2 separate regions of the Homo sapiens genome follow, and region 2 is linked to region 1. Evidence: fine-mapped expression QTL. Tissue or cell type: spleen. Region 1 holds a variant in brackets; the other region holds the start of a gene. All regions are shown on one strand. Distances are from middle to middle.

Region 1 (8,267 bases):
AAAAGCTACAGCCCGCTTTATGACACTACACCTGGGAATAATTTGTCAGGAGCCCTTTTAGTATACAGCGAAGGCAAGTTTTTAGTATACAGCAAAGTTCAGCTGTTGGCTGGGCACTGTGGGAGGAGGTGAGAAAGTGTGACCCTCTGGGGCCCTGGATACAGCCTCTGATGCTGTTGAAGAAGGATGAAGAGGTGCTCAGGGCACCAACCATTACTTCTTACCCTTTTGTCAAGCTTGCATGCAAACTCTGGAGCAGGGTGAAGGGAGGACACAGTAAAGTCGACAAACAAGCATCGCGAATGCACAAAAGCCCTCTGTGCAAGTGCTGCTTTCCTGAGTGGTGTTTTAATACTGCATTAGTAAAAAATTTCCCTTCCACCTTTTAAAGTTAATGTGTCATGCAGAGCAAGCCTGGCTTTTTAACAAATATGCCTGTTTTCACTGGAAACTTTTCACATCTGGCACAAATAACGTGATCTGGCAGAAACAAAAAGATGTGTGAGCATGTCATAAGCAAAAATCTGGGCCAGCTTTTTTATTTTAATTTGTGAAAGGAACATTTCATTTCTTTGAATTTGGAGGCTCCTTCCAGCTGCCTTCTAATTTACTCCAGGCTGTAACGCAAAAAATTCTCCATCCCAGTTCTGTCTTAGGAAATATATTTGGCAGTTCCCTAGAGCACCTAGTTTCTACCCATTTAATGCTTTTCAGCAAATCTAGGGTCTATAGAGACCCAACTGAGAATACCTCCTTTATTCTAAAGCTGAGAAGTAAATGTCTTCTAAGTCTGTTCATGAAGTTATAAAGTTGTAATTATCCTGTTTTACAGCCATCAAAAAATATTTATTCACCACCAGCAACTTGTTTGAAATTAATTCAGAGCCATGTTTCAACCTCTAGGGCAGTGCCATCCAAAAGAAATATACTATGAACCTTAAATGTTATTTTAAATGTTCTAATAGCAACATTTTTAAAAAGTGAAAAGAAAAAGATGGAATTAATTTTAATAATATATTTTATTTAACCCAATATATCAAAAATACTATTTCAACATGAAATCAATATAAAAATTATTAATGAGATACTTTATATTTTAATATTTATTCTTCAATATGGGGTGCATATTTTATACTTATAGTACATCTCAGTTCAGACTAGGTATGTTTCAAATGCTCATTAGCCACATATGGTTAGTAGCTATCATGTTGAACATCACCGCTTTAGGGAAACTCTAATCAAATATCCCCTGTTGAAGGGCAAACATGACCAAGCATAAAAATGGCCAAGGTGTGCATGTTCTCACTCATAAGTGGGGAGATGAACAATAAGAACACATGGACATGGGGAGGGGAACAACACACACCGGGGCCAGTTGGAGGGTGGGGGCAAGGAGAGGGAGAGCATTAGGACAAATAGCTAATGCATGCAGGGCTTACAACCTAGATGACGTGTAGATAAGTGTAGCAAACCACCATGGCACCTGTATACCTATGTAACAAACCTACACATTTTGCACTTGTATCCCGGAACTTAAAATAATAAAGAAGAAAAGAAAGGAAAATAAAAGGACAATTAAACGTCAAAAAAATGGCTAAGATGTAAGGAAGGTGCGCAGTTTCAATCCCCTGCAGATGGCTAGCAAGTTATCCCAGCACCATTTATTGAATAAGGGAGTCCTTTCTCCATTGCTTGTTTTTGTCACCTTTGTCAATGATCAGATGGTTGTAGGTATGTGGCCCCATTTCTGGGCTCTCTGTTACATTGGTCTATGTACCTGTTTTTGTAACAGTACCATGCTGTTTTGGTTACTGTAGCCTTGTAGTATAGTTTGAAGTCAAGTAACATTATGCCTCCAGCTTTGTTCTTTTTGTTTAGGAGTGCCTTGGCTATTTGGGCTCTTTCTTGGTTCCATATAAATTTTAAAATAGTTTTTCCTAGTTCTTTGAAGAGTGTCATTGGTAGCTTGATAGGAATAGCATTAAATCTATAAATTGCCCCAGGCAGTATAGTCATTTTAATGATATTGATTCTTCATATCCATGAGCATGGAATGTTTTTCCATTTGTTTATGTCATCTCTGATTTCTTTGAGCACTGTTTTGTAGTTCTCCTTGTAAAGATTTTTTACCTCCCTGGTTAGCTCTATTCCTAGGTATTTTATTCTTTTTGTGGCAACTGTGAATGGGATTGCATTCCCGATTTGGCTCTCGGGGAGTGCTAGTGATTTTTGTTTGTTGATTTTGTATCCTGAGACTTCGCTGAAGTTGTTTATCAGCTTAAGAAGCTTTAGGGCTGAGACTGGGGTTTTCTAGATATAGAATAATGTCTTCTGCAAACAGGGATAGTTTGACTTTCTGTCTTCCTGTTTTGATGCACTTTATTTATTTCTCTTGCCTGATTGGTCTGCCCAGGACTTCCAATACTGTGTTGAATAGGAGTGGTGAGAGAGGACATCCTTGTCTTGTGCCAGTTTTCAAGGGGAATGCTTCCAGTGTTTGCCCATTCAGTATGATGTTTGCTGTGGTTTTGTCATAGATGGCTCTTATTATTTTGAGGTATGTTCCTCGAATACCTAGTTTATTGAGAGTTTTTAACAGAAAAGTTTAGCAGAGGTGTTGAATTTTATTGAAAGCCTTTTCTGCATCTATTGAGATGATCAAGTGGTTTTTGTCTTTAGTTCTATGTGATGAATCAGATTTATTGATTTGCAAATGTTGAACCAACCTTACATCCCAAGGATATAGCCTACTGGATCATGGTGGATAAGCCTTTTGATGTGTTGCTGGATTCTGTTTTCCAGTATTTTGTTGAGGATCAAAGACTTAACTGTAAAACCCAAAACTATAAAAACCCTGGAAGACAACCTACGCAATGCCATTCTGGACATAGGAATGGGCAAAGATTTCATGATGAAGATGCCAAAAGCCATTACAAAAAAAGCAAAAATTGATCAATGCAATCTAATTAAACTAACGAGCTTCTGCACGGCAAAAGAAACTATCAACAGAGTAAATAGGCAACCTACAGAATTGGAGAAAATTTAGCAAACTATTTGCATCTGACAAAAGTCTAACATCCAACATCTATAAGGAACTTAAACAAATTTACAAAAAAAAAAAAAAACCGTTAAAAAGTAGGCCAAAGACATGAACAGACTCTTTTGAAAAGAAGACAGACATGTGGCCAACAGGCATGTGAAAAAAAGCTAAAAATCACTGATCATTAGAGAAATACAAATAAAAAAAAAGCCACAGTGAGATACTATCTAACACTAGTCAGAATGGCTGTTATTAAAAAATAACAGATGCTGGGCTGGTGAGGTTGTGGAGAAAAAGGAAGGCTTATACACTGTTGGTGGGAGTTCAGCCATTGTGGAAAACAGTGTGAGGATTCCTCAAAGAACTTAAAACAGAAATACCATTTGACCCAGCAATTCCATTACTGGATATATACGCAAAGGTATATAAGTCATTCTACGTTAAAGACACATGCGTGTGTATGTTCAGTACAGCACTATTCATAATAGTGAAGACATGGAATCAACCTAAATGCTCATCAATGATAGACTGGATAAAGAAAATGTGGTACAGAAACACCATGGAACATTATGCAGCCGTAAAAAGAATAAGTTGATTTCTTTTGTGGGAACATGGATAGAGCTGGAGGTCATTATCCTTAGCCAACTAACGCAGGAACAGAAAACTAAATACCACATTTTGTCACTTATAAGTGGGAGCTAAATGATGAGAACACATGGACACATAAAGGGAAATAACAGACATGGTAGCCTACCAGAGGGTGGAAGGTGGGAGGAGGGAGAGGGTCGGGAAAAATAACTAATGGGTACTAGGATTAATACCTGAGTGACGAAATAATCTGTATAATAAACCCCCATGGCACGAGTTTATCTATATAACAAACTTGCACATGTATCCCGAATTTAAAAGTTAAAAGTAAATAAAAAAGATATGATTACCATCAGAAAAAAAATAAAATAAAATGTAAATATAATCTGGAAAACACAGGTATGGAAGGTTAATATGGCTCGAATCAAAGCACCGTAATTGTCTGCTGGTTTAACTCATCTTGATGAACATTTTTCTCCATTGTAAACACCAATTCTGTGTTTAGAATTGGAAACCAATTCTGTGTTTAGCTTAACAGTAACCCACAACACTTGGACCAACTCAATTCTGTGTTTAGAATTGGAAACCAAAAAACTCCTTAGAGCCTGCTGGACACGTTTTGTATGCCTCCTGGGTTTCATTGCAGAATTCTGAATGTTTGCTTGCCTGTGGGACTTATGGTGAGGTTTGATTTTCATATTTTTCCACTTACCTCCCTGCTTCTCTTACAAGTTCTGACAAATTGGGAAAACTCACAGAATGTTTTCTAAGCTAAACAAGAAGCAAGTACCAATTTTTAAATTCAACTTTTCACTTTGAGATAATTACAGTTTCACATACAGGTATAAGAAATAACATATAGATCTCTTGAATCCTTTGCCCAGTTTCCCCAATGGTAACATCTTGCAAAACTAGAATATAGTATCAGGACCAGGATGTTGTCATGAATATAGTCAGAATACAGAGCATTCCATTCACTACAAGGATCCTTCATGTTGCCCTTTTATAGCCACATTTACTTTGCTTCCACCCCAACCTTCTCATTAACTCCTGGCAACCACTAATCTGTTCTTCATTTTACAATTTTGTCATTCCAAGAATGGAGTCATACAATATGAAAACATTTGACACTGGCTGTTTTCACTCAACATAATTTCTCGGAGATTTATCTAGGTTGTGTTTATCAGTA[G/T]TTGGTTCATTTTTATTGTTCAGTAGTATTCCTTAGTCTGGATATACTACAGTTTGTTTAACTGTTTTTACCTGTTGAGGGACATCTGGGTTGTTTCCAGGTTTGGGTTATTGCAAATAAAATTGCTGTAAACATTTGTGTAGGCTTTTGTGTAAATATAATTTTTCGTTTCTCAGAGATAAATGCCCACGAGTGCAATTACTGTGTCATGTGGTAGTTGCATGTTTAGTTTTTTTTGGAAACTGCTGAGCTTTTCTATTTTTGATTCTCACTAACTGTGTATGAGTGATTCAGTTTCTCCACATCCCCTCCAGCATATGGTGTTGTCACTACTTTTTAATTTTAGCCATTCTGATGGGTTTGTAGTGATATCTCATTGTGGCTTTAATCTCAGTTGCCCTGTTGGTGAATCATGTTGAGCATCTTTTCATGTGCTTATTTGCCATCTTATGTCCTCTTTGGTTCATGTCCTGTGTCCATGTCCTAGATCACTTTTTTTTTACTTTGAATTTTGAGAGTTCTTTATATATTCTAGATACTATCCTGTCAGATATGTAGTTTGTAAATATTTTCTCCTACTCTGTATCTTGTCTTTTCATCCTCTTAACAGGGTCGTTCACAGAACAAAAGTGTTTAATTTTAATGAACTCTAATTTGTCAATTTTTGCTTATGTGGGTCATGCTTTTGGTGTCAAGTCTAATAACTCTGCCGAATCCTATATTCTGAAGATTTTCTCCCATAATGTGTCACTAAAAGTTTCACATTTTACATTTGTGTCTGCTTACATTTTGAGTTAACTTTTGTATGAAACTTAGGTCAAGCTTCTTTTTTTTTTTTTTTTTTTTTTTTTTGCCTGTGGATGTCCAATTGCTTCAGCAACGTTTTTTGAAAAAGCTATGTTTCCTCCATTGAATTGTTTTTGTGCCTTTCTCAAAAATCAGTCAGACATTATTTGTGTGGGTTTATATATGGGTTGTCTCTTCTGTCTTAATTATCTATGCGTCAGTCTCTGCCAACACTGCACAGTCTTGATTACTGTGGTTACATAGTCAGTCTTCAAATAAGCTAGGCTGATTCCTCTCAGTTTAGACTTCTCTTTCAAAAGTGTTTCAGCTATTCTGGTTCCTTTGCCTTTGCATATAATTTAAAAATAATCTTGTCTATATCTGCAAACATTAAGAAAAATTGATATCTTTACTATGTGGAGTTTTCTATTCTGTGAACCTGGTATATCTCTCCATTTATTTAGCTTTTCCTTGGTTTCTTTCATCATCTACACACATCATCTCATCTGTGTGTAGTTTTCAGCATACAAGTCCTATACATAAGTATTTCAGTTTTGAGCAATTATAATAAGTATTGTGTTTTTAATTTCAGGGTCTATTACTAGTATATGGAAGTATAGTTTTTTTGTTTTGTTTTTTTGAGATGAAGTTTCACTGTTGTTGCCCAGGCTGGAGTGTAATTGCATGATCTTGGCTCACTGCGGTCTCCGCCTCCTGGGTTCAAGCGATTCTCCAGCCTCAGCCTCCCAAGTAGCTAGGATTCAGGTGCCTGCCACCACACCTGGCTAATTTTTTTGTATTTTTAGTAGAGACAGGGTTTCACCATGTTGTATGTTTATCTCATACCCTGTGGCCTCGCTGAACTCACTTATTAGTTCTAGGAGTTTTTTGTAGATTGCTTGGGATTTTACATAGATAATCATGTCATCTGTAAATAAGGAACAGTTTTATTTATTCTTTTATGATATACATGCTTTTTGTCTCCTTCCTTTGTCTTATTGCACTGGCTAGAACTTCCAATACTATGTTGAATAAGAGAGGTGAGAACTGACATTCTTATCTTGTTCTCTGTCTTAGGGGAATGTTAGGTATAATGTTAGCTATAGCATTTTTGTAGATGTCCTGTTGTGGATGCCACCATACCTGGCCCTATATCATTATATTTGATATACATTTCTTCTAAATAACATATAGTTTGGTCATATTTTTAATCCACTTTATCAATCTTTGTCTTTATAATAACTGATATGTTAGGGCTTAAATCGGATATTTTATTTTTGTTTTCTGTTTGTTCTCTCTGGTTATTGTTTTTCTGTTTTCCTTTTCCTGCATTCCTGTGGGTTAATTTAACATTTTTAGAACTACATTTTGATTTATTTATAGTGTTTCTCGAGTGTCTCTTTGTATAGCTGTTTTGGTGGTTGTTCTAGGTATTATATATACATGTTTATCTATCTATCTAGTTACCTTTCTCTCTAGATCTTATTAAAGTCTATTGGTGTCATCATTTTACCAGTTTGAGTCAAGTATAGACATTTTACCTTCCTTTAAGTTCCTTTAACTTCTCCCATTTATAATATAATTGTCTTGGGCCTGGCGCAGTAGTTCACACCTGTAATCCCACACTTTGGGAGGCCATGGCGGGTGGATCATTTGAGGTCAGGAGTTTGAGACCAGCCTGGCCAACATGGTGAAACCCTGTTTCTACTAAAAATACAAAAATTAGCCGGGTATGGTGGCGTGTGCCTGTAACCCCAGCTATTCGGGAGGCTGAGGCACAAGAATTGCTTAAACCCAGGAGGCGGAGGTTGCAGTGAGCTGAGATCACGCCACTGCACTCCAGCCTGGGAGATAGAGTGAGACTCTGTCTCTAAATAAATAAACAATATAATTGTCTTAATTATTTTCTCTAAATACATTTAGAACAACATCAGGGTTATAATTTTTGCCTCCACCATCAAATATACTTTAGAAAATTTTAGAGAAGAAAGCAAACGAATTTTATTAGCTGTATTTTTGCTTATTGTGTTCTTTCTTCTTTCCTGATTTTCCAAGGTTTCTTCTTTTATCTTTTTCTTTCCATTTAGAGAACTTCCTTTAACATTTCCTTTAGGGTCTAAAAGTGACAAATTCTGTTTTGCTTCTTCTAAGAATGTCTTATTTCTTCTTTATTCCTGGAAGATATCCCCACTGGATATAAGTTTCTTTTCTTTCAGCACTAGAAAAATATTGTGCTGCTTCCTTCTGACATATATATATCCCTGCTATAGGTAAGGTGTCATTTTTCTCTGGTGCTTTCAAGATTTTTTTATGTCTATTTTTTCAGAAACTTAATCATGATGTGTGTTGGTATGGATTTCTAGGATTTATCCTGCTTGGGATTCACCCAGCTTCTTGAATCTTCAGGTTTAGGTCTCTTGCCAAATTTGGGATGTTTTCAACCATTGTTTCTTCAAACTTTTTCAGCCTTACTCTTTCTCTTCTTCCTGGAATCTGGTGATGTGAATGGTAAATCTTTTGTTATAATTCCACATGTTCCTATGATGCTGTTCTTTTTTTTTTTGTTTTTTTGAGTTTGTTTTCTCTCTTTGGTTTAGGGTGGGCTGTTTCTATTGTCCTATCTTCCAGTTCACTGATTTTTTTCCTCTGTCCCCTCTGTTCTGC
Region 2 (8,000 bases), 150 kb after region 1:
TCATAATTTTTGGTTAAAAGCTGGACATGTTGTGTAGGAGTAGAGATTGAGGTAATTTTTATGACTGGAAATGAGCACGCCTGTTCTTTGTGAGGCCTTTGGTGAAGGGTTTGTGTTAATCTGGTTAGGAGTTGGACTTAGTTTATGATTTGTTTTTGCCATAGTTATCCTCAGTGTATTACAGCCTTCATGAATCTGCAGAACAGTTTGTCTCTCTGGTGGGCGATGGTTTACTAGAGCAATGCCTGTTTGATTCTTTGTGTTGTGCCTCTTTGCATAATCTTGTTCCTTTCCTAGTAGTATTTTGTGGGTTACTTGTTACTGAAAGCTTCTTAGCTTGGTGGCAGGGGGTTGGGGGTGGGGGATACAGTCTGATGTTCTGATTAAGTCTAAGTCAAACACTGTGTTCCTGAATCTCAGGAGGGCAGCACTCTCGGTTCTGTTGACCACTCCCGACTGCAGTTTTGGGCTCAGGGCCCCTCCTCCAGGCATAAGATTCTCTCCCACTTCTCATCTACCCCCTGAATGTTCACCAATGGGGCCAACAGAGATACCCTTCTCCCCAGAGATTAAAGCTTTTTTCCATAGAAGAGGCAGAGGGGAAGAATCACAGCAGTTTCTTGACCCTCTTAAAAGTTCTGTTGCTGTTCCTCTCCCTCTCAATCTGCACAGCAGACTCACCCAGGGTTCTTTCCAGTCTTTTCTAGTAGACCCAGGGAGGTTTGTGGATAAGAGTTTGCAAGATTGTGCATTCAGCTTTCATCATGCTTTTTGTCCAGTTGTGTCTGAAGACGGTAAACAGAAATTGACATCTACTCTCTGTAAGCACTGTCTCTCAAATTTTCAGCCAGTGGTTTTGCTCTGTGGACTCAGCTCTTTAATAGATTTCAAAAAAGTCATGAATTTGTAGTGTAGGTCTTTTTTTGTTGCAGAAGTGAGAGCAAAGCTTCTTTTTTTGTCTCAGGGCCAAAGCCAGAGGTAGTTACATTATTTATAAACTAAAGATAGCAAAGAAGGTGTTACTAATTATTTTTTATAAAAAGGGAGCCTTTATTGGGTCTAATAAAGTTGAGAAACACTGACTCAAGGAACTCTTTCAAAATATTAATAACTCCCCTTTAACTACTGCCATGTTTTACAGTGAACATTTAGGCCAAAACCTATTTGTAGCAACCAAATTTGTGCTGCAGTTTATCTGCACAGCCTTGTTTCAATTACTAATTTAAAGTACCTCAATCAGAAGCAGGGGAAAGGTATGTGTAGCAGAAACCTCATATTCACCTGTGTAAACAGAACTGGTTGAGGAATGAAGCCAAATTAGTTAAAACACATCTTTTCAATTTCAACCCTAATTTGGGACCTATTGAGAACCGGACTCCACTATCAACCTTTTAACAAATTTAATAAAGCCAGTATTGTTACAGTCCACCTGGGCAAGGCAACCATCTTCTATTTATTTGTGGATAAAGTTAAATTATTCCAAACAATTCATTCACTTATTAATATTTTATTTTTTAGCTTAAGTATTTTGTTTACAACTAAGCTTGTTAACAATATATAACATTAATATATTTTAGACTATTTATTACTACCACTTTAGAAAAAGAGGAATATTCATTGCCTCTCAGTGGAATACAAATGCTGATATTTTCCATGAACTGAACTCTAGCCTTAAGGTTCTTTACATTCTTATTTCTTAATAATCCTCTGACTCCTCTTTTCCTCCCTTAATATGTTCTACTTCCTGTTTTCAAACAAGGAGTATAATGTAATAATTTCTACACAAGGACGTGTGTTGCCTGAATGCATTGTGATACTAACAGCACAAGCCAAGTCTGAGATATAGTAGCTTAAAAAGCGTTTCACATTACACAAAATGTGAACAAGGTTTTACGTTATATGATAGATAAGCCAATAAAGTACTTTCCAAAAATCAAAGAACTGTGTTCTGGATACCGAATTTCTGACAAGTGGTTTCTATAAATTTATTTTTTTAAGGCAAATTCTGTTTCATACTCCCATAAACTCAAAGTACTGGTAATATATTATAAAACCTTATCACTGTAATTTTCCCTGCAGGCAGTAGTTTCAAACCTAGAAACCTATCAAGTCCATAAACTGAGAAAGAAAATATAGTAAGAAAGAATTACTGGGGGCAGGTTCTGAACTTCTACTTTTTTCCCCAAGACACTGTATTACAAAAGGCTCAACATAACTGTACACTATAAAGCCCTTCATAGAGGACGCAACAGCATCAGGTACAGAACCTCCTTTTTGAGGGAAATCAGAATAACGTAAAAGGGAAAAGCAGAGGGAAAATGAGAAATAATTACTTTGGGAGACCACCGCCACATTAGGGTGAAATCTTTACTTTTTTCCCCCCTCTAAGCAACGGACACAGGAAACAATCTTAAGACAAACGTGGTTAACGGAACACGCTACAAAAGGAGAAAATTTAAGGGAAGGCACTCTTAAACATAGTTAAGTATCAAGTGATTAACAGCCACTTCACTGAGCGTCTAAGTCCTACTTTACCCACTCCAAAGGCCACATTCAAAGATAAAATCACAGCAGCGGAGGAAAGGCCACGTGAATAAGCTGCCTTGCAGGAAGGAAAAGCCTTAGGGGAGAAAATGATTTTAGAAAAAGTACTGGAGAACAGACGACGCGGATGCTCATTTCCTAACAAAACGAAACAAAGCAAAGAAAGTCAGTCTGCAGGACTTGTTCGGAAGGAGGGTCGCTGACCCAAGGAAACAAGAGTTGCCGGCATCCAGCAGGAAGGGTGCTCAGACTAGGAGACTGGAAGGGAATCCCGAGGGCGGAACCCACAAGGGAATGAAGAGCCTGTGGGGTAAGGATATGTTAAGGCGAGTGGAGGAGCGTACTAGGTATAAAACAAGCAAAAAAAAGGGGTGGGGCTGGACAGGGCAGCGCCCTGAGCTAATGTCACTCAAAGCCGGGGGGGCGTCCAACGAAAGGAACCAGACCAGCAGCCTGGGGGAAGGGTAATCTGCTTCCTTAGCAGCTGCAGGCTGCAGCAGCCAAGACCACCCCGTTTTCCCTGCCCTGAGCCCCACAAAGTCCCCACGGCGTGGGAAGGGAGTAAGGCAGAGCCCCAGAGCCCAGTGCCCGGAGTCGGCTTTACCTTCGCGGGAGGCTGGAGAGGCTCCAGCCCTAGCTCCTCCCGCCGCCGGCTCAGCTTCCAGAGTGGGATGAGGCGCCCTCCGGCCTCCTCACCCTCACCACTTCCCCTTTCCCCCGCCGGGGCCCTGCAGCTCCGCTGCCGCGGGTTCCTGGTGCCGCCGCGGCGCTGCCTCCCCGCCCCCTCCGCCTCCTCCCTCTGCCTCTCAGAGTTTCACTCTGGAGGCCGCCATCTTCGCTCAGGCTTTGAGCGAGCGCGCTCTAATACGCCTGCGTCGCCACCGCCCAGGCTGTCACGAGACCCAGTCAGCTGATTTCAACTCTTCCGTCTTCTGCCCCGCCCTCCCCGTCCTCCCCGTCCCGATCGTTCTTTCCCTGAAATTCTGCTTTCCTCCGGCCAGCCCCCAGCAGCTACACATGCGCAGAGTAACGACACCGGCCGTGGGATTTGGATTCCACGCAGCGCGTCAGGGGGCTGGCGCCTCGGTGGGTGCTGAAAAGGACACGCCCCTGGGCGCGCGCGGGTGCCCATGACCACGCCCCTCCGGCGGGTGCCCATGACCACGCCCCTCCGGCGTGTGCCTTAGGGCCGCGCCCCTCCGCTTATGTCCTGCGGAGAGTAGGGTCGCAACCCGGTACTTAAGCTTTAAGTCCGAGGAAATCTTGTTTTAAATCACCTCTTTTTAGCTCTTGCCGTCAAGTGCCATGGAGCATCTGCGAGGCAGTCTGAAGCCTCAGCCTATCTCCTGGTTTGGCTGGATTGGGAGCCAGCAGGTTCATTTACTATTGAGACGTCCTGAACGACAGCAGAGCAGGGTTTAAGTTATGGATGCTCTGGAAGGTCTCAGAGACCAAATTCTCAGAGACGCCTAAGGCATTTGCAGGTGGGAATGCTGGAAAGATAGTTCTGGTAGCCCCATTTATTGTGTCCGGATCAAGTGTTTAGAAGTTTACTTAAAGCTGCTTAATCTTCAACTCTCTGAGATACGAATCATCCTCGTTTTGCAGATAAGTTGAGGCCCAGCCTCAGAGTAGTGGATTTCATGTTTGCACCCAAGTAATTTGAACCCAGAACCTGTGCCCTCTAGATAACCATCTTCCTGAACCTCACCTGAGAGGGAAGTCAGGGCAGTGAAAAGAGGGGATATTGGGACTAAAGGATTCGGCTAGAAATTATGTGTTATCTGTGGGCAATGGTTTAAATAAGAAAGGTCAATGTCCACTCCCAGATCTGAGCCGTAAAGACCACAGTTTAAAAATTAGTGATTAAAAAAAAAATAGTGATTCTGCTGCAGACTTCAGAGTAGAGGCAGTGTAGGGTGACCTGCATGGATACATTATTGTATAAGGGTTAAAGGTCTCTGATAAGGAGTTGAATACTCATTCTTCATGGCAGTCCTGAAATTGTGATTTCTTGGCGTCCCCTTCAGCAAGTTGGCTCATTTTATAGACAGCGATTGCAGGATGAAAAAATGTGGAAAAATGGTTTTTACAGACTTTACCTCTTGATTCTATTAACCCTTTGCCCTACCTTAGGGCGGAAAAAGACTATTTGTGTTTATCCTTAGACTTTTCTGTAATGCAGCAGTAAGATAAGGTGCATGTAAGGGAAGGTACTAGGAATAGCTGGGTGTGGGAAGACAGAACCCGAAATAGAGTAGGAAGGGAGGAGGAGGAAAAAGAAACAGGAGGGCTGTGTTAAGGGGCCTTATTGGCTTATCCCATGGAAACAGAAACGTGTTTATGTGGTTACAAAGCCTTCCAGTAATCCCAAAAGTAAATGTGGGGTATATTATTTCGATTTTAGAGAAGCAGCAGACCCAGAGAGTCCAGGAGACTTGCTAAAGGTGACCTAACTCCTAAAGGTTGAGCCAAGATTAAGACACAGGGCCTGCCTGTAACATCAAGGCCAGTGAACTGTTCAACCTCCACACTGCCTCTCTGTTCAATATTTGAGACCAATAAAATCAATTCTCGTGTTGAGAGGAGCCTTAGGCATCATGAATTGTCCCCATCCTCTGTAGTGCAAAATTGCCTCACAAGACATCTTTTTCCATTGCATTTTTATAAGCCATTTTCCTTGTATTCAGCCAACTTGCACTCTCTTCTATGAGTAGTTATTTTGTCTTTGTTTCTTGCTCTTTTCTTCTTGTATGTGACATTCATTTAAGCACTTATCAGTACAGCTTATCACCCTTTCCCACTCCCTCTCCCGTGCATATCCTTCTAACTACCCCTGCTACAGATACTCATTTTAAGAAACCATATTCAAAGTACTTTCAACCATTGTTCACAAGATGTAGTTTCAAGCCTTTTCACAACCACTGGTTGCTTTTAATTGGATCCATACAATTGGATCCTTCTTAAAATGCCACAACAAAATACAAGAGTCAGGGAGAGTAGGACTTGTCTCTTCTTTCCCTATTAGGTTAAATCAGTTGGATCCTTTCCCCACCCAACTCTTTTTTAAGAGTGACAAATGCACACTTCTTTTTCTGGATTTGTCTTTTTATTCATAATTAAAGTTTGCACTAGCGTTTCTGACACTTTCATAGTGCAGATGTATCAAATTTACAATCTAAATTATGTGATGTACACTTAAAATATTTCACAGCTTTTTAAAAAATACATTTCACAGCCTTTTAGGCACCAATAGCCTTTATCAGTCTCCAAAGTTAGCATACAAGGCTGGAGTGATCTAAGACTTTAGAGAGCCCACAAGAATGTCAAACACTTGCTTATCTAATTCCCATTGCTGCTAAATTGACCTTCCTAATTATATCAATGCCCAGATCCAAAGTAAATCCTTAAGAACTCATACCACTCAACAATGCTTGAACTATGTTTTCAGTACAGTAGCCACTAGCCCTATGTGGCTACTGAACACAGAATAAAAATTAAAATTGTTACAAAAAAATGTAAAATGTTGCATTAGCAATTTTTATATTGATTACACGTGTTAAAAGAAAAAAATATTTAGGCCGGGCACGGTGGCTCACGCCTGTAGTCCCAGCACTTTGGGAGGCTGAGGCGGGTGGATCACCTGAGGTCAGGAGTTTGAGACCAGCTTGGCCAACATGATGAAACCCCGTCTCTACTAAATATAAAAAAATTAGGCGGGCCTGGTGGTGCATACCTGTAATCCCAGCTATTCGGGATGCTGAGGCAGGAGAATCACTTGAACCTGGGAGGGGGAGGTTGCAGTGAGCCGAGATGGTGCCACTGCACTCCAGCCTGGGCAACAAGAGTGAAACTCTCAAAAAAAAAAAAAGTATTATTTAATGATACTTGTTAAAGCTTGGTAATAGGCTGAGCATGATGGCTGACACCTGTAATCCCAAGGCTTTGGGAGGCCAAGTCAGGAGGATCACTTGAGGCCAGGAGTTTGAGACCAGCCTATGCAATGTAGTGGGACCCCATTGCTACAAAATAATAAAAATAAAAGCATTATCTGGGCATGGGGGCATGCCCCTGTAGTGCTAGTTACTCAGGAGGCTGAGGTGAGAGGATCTCTTGAGCCCAGGAGTTCGAGGTTACAGTGAGCTATAATTGTGCCACTGCACTCCTGCCTGGGCAGCAGAGAAAGACCCTGTACCCCCTGCTCCCCACAAAAAAGATTTTATTCAGTTTATTTACGATCATTACAATAGGTACAGGAGCCACTGCAACAGGGGCTTGCAGTAAGGGAGAGAGACGGGGCTCAGGTCGGAAAACGACACGGGCAAGTATGCATTTATCTCCAAGGAACAGTGTGTGGGGGTCAGTGGATGGAAAATTACTAAGAGAAAACATCAGGGGTGAGCGGGGATCCTGGCTAAACCTACGTAACAGGATTCTTGCTAAAGACAGGCCAGAGTGATTAGACATCTTCTGGGGGAAGGTGAAAGATGAGGAATCTGATCACATATCGAGGGAATTTTGGCTAAACTGACTTAGCCAGGTTCTTTTGCAGACTAGACTTTTCAAGGAAGCACACAGAGGGGCCTAAGGAAAGGTTCAGAAGCCTGATTAAAATTTGGCTGAGCAAAGACTCTTTGTCACATGTGGAAATGATAATATTATGGCTGTATATTTGGTTAAATAAAATGTTATTAAAATTAATTTCACTTGTTTCTTTTAAGGAATGTAGCTACTAGTAAATGTAAAATTAAATATATGGCTCCCATTGTATTTCTCTTGGACAATACTGCTATTAGAAAATCTTGTGCAAGCAAACAGTAAGTGTCAGAAAACAACTACGTCGAGTTGGTGAGCTTGAAGCTTCCACAGAATCTTCTACTGGACTTCATTTTAATTTGTTATGTGATTGGTTGGTTGTTTGTCTTTAGTGGTTTTTCTCAAGATTTATCTGGCCACACGTATTTAGTTTTCTGTGTTTCTCTATACTGTAATTCAAATAATTGAAATTATTTACAACATATGACAAATTATGACATGAGAATTTCTTGACATATATACATATGTATCTGTATATATATATAGGATCCACAATTTTTTTTTTTTGTAACTGATAGCCTGGCTTCCCCAGCTCACTTAATCCTACCCCAGGAAGTCTAGTTTTATTATTAATGTGAATTAAAATATCTTTTTAAATAGTATAATGATGTTCATATATAAAGGATTTTGAATTTATAATATTTTATTAACAAAAACATGCTTTCATTTAATTACAGGAAATTATCTAGATTTGATTATATTTTCAAAGATGGATGAGGAGGGAAAAGAAAATAACTTATTCTGTGGTCTAACAATTTTAAACTATTATTGAAATTTTAACTGGTTAAGAAAAAGGCCTGTGTTCTTTTTCCTTATTAAATTTTACCACAACTGCTCTTTTACAATATATACACTGCTGA

What was found. PIP is the estimated chance that this variant, and not a neighbour inherited with it, causes the effect.
Region 2: it holds the start of DNAJC13, and the variant in region 1 is fine-mapped to the expression of DNAJC13 in spleen (GTEx, PIP above 0.99).

Annotation. Positions count from the first base shown.
Region 1 is chr3:132,566,204-132,574,470 of GRCh38, reverse strand. The region is part of intron 17 of ACAD11 (acyl-CoA dehydrogenase family member 11); the gene reads left to right. The region is part of intron 42 of NPHP3-ACAD11 (NPHP3-ACAD11 readthrough (NMD candidate)); the gene reads left to right. Among named protein-coding and RNA genes, the nearest start is that of ACKR4, 27 kb to the left of the region's middle. The variant G/T (reference allele first, on the strand shown) is at 4,818.
Region 2 is chr3:132,412,909-132,420,908 of GRCh38, reverse strand. DNAJC13 (DnaJ heat shock protein family (Hsp40) member C13) reads right to left here and starts at 3,407. Exons shown (of 56, transcript NM_015268.4): 1 at 3,149-3,407. RefSeq lists enhancers at 2,543-3,078, 3,018-3,167 and silencers at 3,198-3,337, 3,618-3,717.